Linked DNA regions of Homo sapiens: region 2 is linked to region 1. The links come from fine-mapping of genetic effects on gene expression. A gene starts in region 1. The other region holds a variant in brackets. All regions are shown on one strand. Distances are from middle to middle. Region 1 holds the start of STX2 (syntaxin 2). Region 2 has its middle 3.8 kb from the start of RAN.

Region 1 (2,908 bases):
CTGGCCTCCTGCTAATTTTTTAATTTTTTTCGAGAAACAGTGTCTCCCTGTGTTGCCCAAGCTGGTCTCCAATACCTGGGCTCAAGTGATGCCCCCACCCTGATCTCCCAGACTGCTGGGATTACAGGAGTGAGCCACAGCTTTTCTTCATTAAATAAATACCTGAGCTCCTACTACACGGCACTGAAAGATAATCCATCGGGCAAGACAACACAACTATAATTTGCTGTGTTTAAGATGATATTGATCTGCGGAACACAGGGAATATTTGTCCATTAATAAAAAAGGAAAAATCACCGTGAAGAAACTTCCTTGGAATGAATATAAAGCATAATTTCCATGATCCTAAGGATGAAATCATTGCCTTTCTCAACCAGAGCTCCTCATCTGAACCACAGAACACAGATAATGATTTAAGTGGCTCTTTTCTCTATTCTCCCACTCGGGGGTACATAACAGCTCCATTCTAGCAGCAGAGGAGAGAGAATAATTCATTACATGCAGTGGGTGTCGTAGGGCTGTGGGCCTTAGCACCCCTGTTCTGAGGCTGCCAACAATTTAGAGACCAGAGGCTCTATCTGTGCACACACGTAGCATGAATTAGTACCTGTATTGTAAAGGGAAAAAGTCATAACTACTTCTGCTGGCCTAAGCCGTCCTGGGTTAGACAAGCTTGGAAAGTGCACGACCATCACTATCATTCCGCTGTCACTGCACCATGCACAGTCCTGTCACCTTTACACGTGTAGAATGCATCGAAATCCTTCCAAAATTTTTAGTGACCTGCTTTTCCCTTGCTAAAGTAAACAGTAACTTGCTGTGTGCCCGGCTGCTGGGCGCGTAAGGTGCGTTCAGAGTCAACACACGGTCCCAGTTTCCAAAGCAAACTACTGGGAGATCAGACACAAGCTGCTGTTCGCGCTCGCCCCACCCCAAGCACCCAGCACTCTAAGGTGCCCACATTTCACACCCATCTGTTGCCTCCCGCTTGGTGCACAGTCCTTTGTGAAGCCCCAGGGATAAAGCAGCGACCAAGAGGACCCGGCCTGCTCCCCGGGGCTGACGCCAGCTGCGGGGACCCCGTGGGGCGGACCACAGTTAGGCCAGTGGGCTCCGGCTGGGTAAGCGCCAGATACAATCCGCCAAGCGGAGTGACGGACAGGGAGCCACGCTCGAAGAGGGGGTCGAGGCCGGGACCTTCCCCGCTCCCTCCTCCTGCCCCAACCCGCCCTGAGGACTCCGCCCAGGAAGCCCTGGGGACCCCGCCCGGAGCCCCCACCCTAGGACTCCCGGGACCCCCGCCCTGGGGACCCCACCAGCAGTCCCCGCTCAGGACTCCCTGAGACCCTGCCCGCAGCCCCCGCCCCAGAACGCCGGAGATCCCCGCCCTGGGGACCCTCCCGGAGCCCCGCCCAAGACGCCCCGAGCCCCCGCCCGCCCTCCAGACGCCGCCCCGGCCGGGCCTGAACCGCTACCCGCGGCTGCCGCTCACCGCCGTCAGGTCTGGCAGCCGGTCCCGCATCCCCGCCGGCCGGGCAGCGCGCCCCGCCGCTCAAGCCTGTCCCGAGCTGCCTCCGGCCGGGCCTCGGGCTCTCCGGTCTCCGCCTCAGGCCCCGCGGTCCCGGCCCGGCGCCAGCAGCCCTCCCTGGAGCCGGCGCTGCCACGGCAACCGCGCCCCGCGCGCTCTGCGCATGCCCGGCCCGCGCCGCGCCCCGCACCCACCCACACGGCGGCAGCGCTTTCCAGCGGGAGCCCGGAGGGGCGGGGCCTGGGGGCGGGGCCTAGGCGGGGAGGGGCGGGGTCCGGCCGAGCCCCAGGCTGGCAGTTCCGCTACACGTGCTGTTTGTCCCTTGATCTGCTTTTATGCTTTCACACTCATTGTTTTATTTATCAAAATATAGAGCATTCAACGAATAGTGACAAAAGAGCAAAGCTCCCGGAATGTGCTGGGTGCAGCTTTGGGTAATACATATGCCGAACCTTCTCTTTAAGGGTCCACGCGCAGCCTCGGGTGTGAATGAAGGAGAAGAGATCGTGTACCACACATGATGCTTACGGAGCATAACACGGCAGGGGGCGGTAACGGGAAGAGCGTCCGCAGGCCCAGCCCTGGGATACCATTCTGGCAGGAGAAACAGGCAATACAGACACAGACAAATAAATGATAGATGAGAAAAGAAAGTAAGGGCATGGGCACGGAACTGGCAGAGAGGTCGTCATGAAGGTGCAGGAGCTTAGGTGAACTACCCAGGTTGGGGGAACAGTCCCCAAGACCATTATCACCTCTGACACCAACGGCAAATTCTGGCGGTTTCCAAAACCACCTTCAAGTTCCATAATTTGCTAGAAGGAATCACAGAATACACTAAAAACTACTGTACTCACAACTATGGTTTCTTAGCAGGAAAATGATACGGATTAACATCAGCCAAGGAAGAAGGGCAGAGGGGGAGTCTGGGGATTACGGCGTGCAGCTTCAAGGTCCTCCCGTGGTCCTCTCCCTGTGTAGTCAGGCCTCATTACTTGCCCTGCACTGATGTGTGGCCTTACACACGAAGTACTGCCAGCCAGGGAAGCTCACTTGAGCCACAGTGTGCAGAACGTTTACTGGGCTCCATTGCATGTGCATGATTGATTGATTGTTTGATTGCTTTCATGCTTGATCTCAGCCTCTTGGTTAAGTGATATCCATGTAACCCTAAGCCCCCACCATAAATCACACTGTTACTCTCTGGCTAGCCGAAGACTCCCAGGCAAACAAAGATTGCCTTCCAGGAGGAGAAGGCAAGGCCAGATTTGTTTTTAAACAAGGTTAAAGTCTTTACTGCCTCCTGGAGGAGGTGGCTTTGGTCTGACCAGAAGGCAGCGCTAAGAAATCTGCTTGAGAGCAACAGGCTACACATTAAAA
Region 2 (2,908 bases), 29 kb after region 1:
CTCCCAAAGTGCTGGCATTACAGGCATGAGCCACCGTGCCCAGCCAAGGGAAGATACTTTTAAACAGAGGGACCAGTAAGTGCAAAGGCCCTGTGGCAGGAATAAATTTGGCTGGGGTAAGATACAGAAAGTCTTGTGAGGTTACAGGGAGAGAGGCAGGAGACGAGGTGGGAGAGGTAGGCATGAGCTAGAGCCCATAGTACCTCCCTGGCTACAGATTTCATGGATCTAAGTGAGACAGATAGAAAACTACTGCAGGTTTTACCAGTGGAGGAGGATGATCTGATTTTTTTTTTTTTTGACAGAGTCTCGCTCTGTCACCCAGGCTGGAGTGTAGTGGCGCAATCTCGGCTCACTGCAAGCTTCGCCTCCCGGGTTCACGCCATTCTCCTGCCTCAGCCTCCCGAGTAACTGGGACTACAGTCACCCACCACCATGCCCGGCTAATTTTTTGTATTTTTAGTAGAGACGGGGTTTCACCATGTTAGCCAGGATGGTCTTGATCTCCTGACCTCATGATCCGCCAACCTCGGCCTCCCAAAGTGCTGGGATTACAGGTGTGAGCCACCACACCCTGCCTCTGATATGGTTTTAAAAGATCACTCTGGGTCACATGCAGTGGCTCATGCCTGTTATCTCAATACTTTGAGAAGTTAAGGCAGGAAAATTGTTTGTGGCCAGAAGTTTGAGATAAGCCTGGGCAATGTAGCAAGACCCCATCTCTACAAAAAAGAAAATAAATTGCTGGGTGTGGTGGTGCCTGCCTGTATTCCCAGCTACTCGGGGGGCTGAGGTGAGTGGATCATTTGACCCCAGGAGCTCAAGGTTGCAGTGAGTCATGATCTCGCCACTGCACTCCAACCCTGGTGACAGAGAAATACCCTGTCACTACAAAACAAAATCCACCCTGTGCCTCCTGATCTGAGACACTAAGAAGGACACAACATCACTTTTGTGGTTTTCCTACCCAAACTGCATAACCTGTATCTAATCATGAGCTAGTATCAGAGAAATCCAAATGAAAGGACAGTCTACAAAATACCTGGCCTCTAAAATACTCTGCAAGGCCAGGCGTGGTGGCTCACGCCTGTAATCCCAGCACTTTAGGGGGCCCAGGTGGGTGGATCCCCTGAGGTCAGGAGTTTGAGACCAGCCTGGCTAACATGGTGAAAACCCATCTCTACAAAAAATACAAAAATTAGCCAGGTGTGGTAGCAGGCACCTGTAATCCCAGCTACACAGGAGGCTGAAGCAGGAGAATCACTTGAACCCGGGAGGCAGAGGTTGCAGTGAGCTGAGATCGCACCACTGCACTCCAACCTGGGCGACAGAGCAAGACTCTGTCTTGGGGGAAAAAAAATACTCAGCCGGGCGCGGTGGCTCATGCCTATAATCCCAGCGCTTTGGGAGGCCGAGGCAGGCAGATCACGAGGTCAAGAGACCGAGACCATCCTGACCAACATGGTACATCGTGAAACCCCGCCTCTACTAAAAATTCAAAAATTAGGTGGGTATGGTGGCGTGCGCCTGTAGTCCCAGCTACTCAGGAGGCTGAAGCAGGAGAATGCCAGAACTCGGGAGGTGGAGATTGCAGTGAGCCAAGATCATGCCAGTGCACTCCAGCCTGGCAACAGAGAGAGATTCTGTCTCAAAAAAACCAAAAAAAAACTCTGCAAAAAGTGTCAAGGTCATGAAAGATAAAGAAAGGCTGAAGGACTTGTAGATGGAAATAGACTAAGGAGGCTGACAAGCAAAC[G/A]TTCCATGCAATCCCGGACTGGATCCTAAACCAGGCAAATGGTGTTAGTGAGACATCTGACAGTTAAGGGTCGAGATTAGATAATCAAATTAGAGCAATGTTAACTGCCTGATTTTGATAAGTGTACAGTGGTTATGTAACAGAATGTCCTTGGTTTTAAGAACTGCACATCAAAGGGCATCCTGTTTGCCACTTACCTCAAACATTTCAGAGAAAAAAAGTCATATATATACACACACACCTAATTACGTCTTTATAAAATCACATATAGGTATATAGGTGAGATCAGCTGGGGCAACATAGTGAGACCCCATTGCTACAATAAAATAAATAAAAAATTAGCTGGGCCTGGTGGCACATGCCTGTAGTCCCAGCTACTAAGCAGGCTGAGGTGGGAGGATCACTTGAGCCCAGGAGTTCCAGGCTGCAGTAAGCCACTATGCTCCAGCCTGTGTGACAGAGACCCTGTCTCTAAAAAAAAAACTAGAGACTAAGGAGGCCTGAGAAACAAGTTAAAAGCGTAACATGCAATCCTCGACTGGATTCTTGTAGGGGAAAAAACGCCAAAAGGTATAAACACTGATGTTCTCATCACCCAGAATTATACAAATGGTTAATATATTGTCACCTTGCTTTGATTACCATTTTTAAAATTAATTTTCTTTCTTGTTTTTTTTTTAGAGACATGGGTTTCACCATGTTGCCCAGGCTGGTCCTAAACTCCTGAGCTCAAGTGATCCATCTGCCTTGGCCTCCCAAAGTGCTCGGATTACAGGCGTGAGTCACTGCACCCAGCCTGATTAGATGGAGTTTTGCTCTGTCGCCCACGCTGGAGTGCAGTGGTGCGATCTCTGCTCACTGTAAGCTCCACCTCCCGGGTTCACGCCATTCTCCTGCCTCAGCCTCCCGAGTAGCTGGGACTACAGGCACCCGCCACCACGCCCAGCTAATTTTTTGTATTTTTAGTAGAGACGGGGTTTCACCGGTTTAGCCAGGATGGTCTCGATCTCCTGACCTCGTGATCTGCCCGCCTTGGCCTCCCAAAGTGCTGGGATTACAGGCGTGAGCCACCGTGCCCGGCCCTGATTACCATTTTTTAAAAAAGAAATGGAACATTGCAGGTAAGGTTAAACTCTTCTATGACCTCTCTCC

Evidence for each region. PIP is the estimated chance that this variant, and not a neighbour inherited with it, causes the effect.
Region 2: its variant is the best candidate, but not a certain one, in a credible set for the expression of STX2 in atrial appendage (GTEx, PIP 0.82).

What each region holds. Positions count from the first base shown.
Region 1 is chr12:130,837,578-130,840,485 of GRCh38, forward strand. It overlaps STX2 (syntaxin 2), which reads right to left and starts at 1,673. Exons shown (of 11, transcript NM_194356.4): 1 at 1,493-1,673. The coding sequence starts at 1,522. RefSeq lists silencers at 1,237-1,296, 1,367-1,876.
Region 2 is chr12:130,866,779-130,869,686 of GRCh38, forward strand. No RefSeq gene overlaps it. Among named protein-coding and RNA genes, the nearest start is that of RAN, 3.8 kb to the right of the region's middle. The variant G/A (reference allele first, on the strand shown) is at 1,757.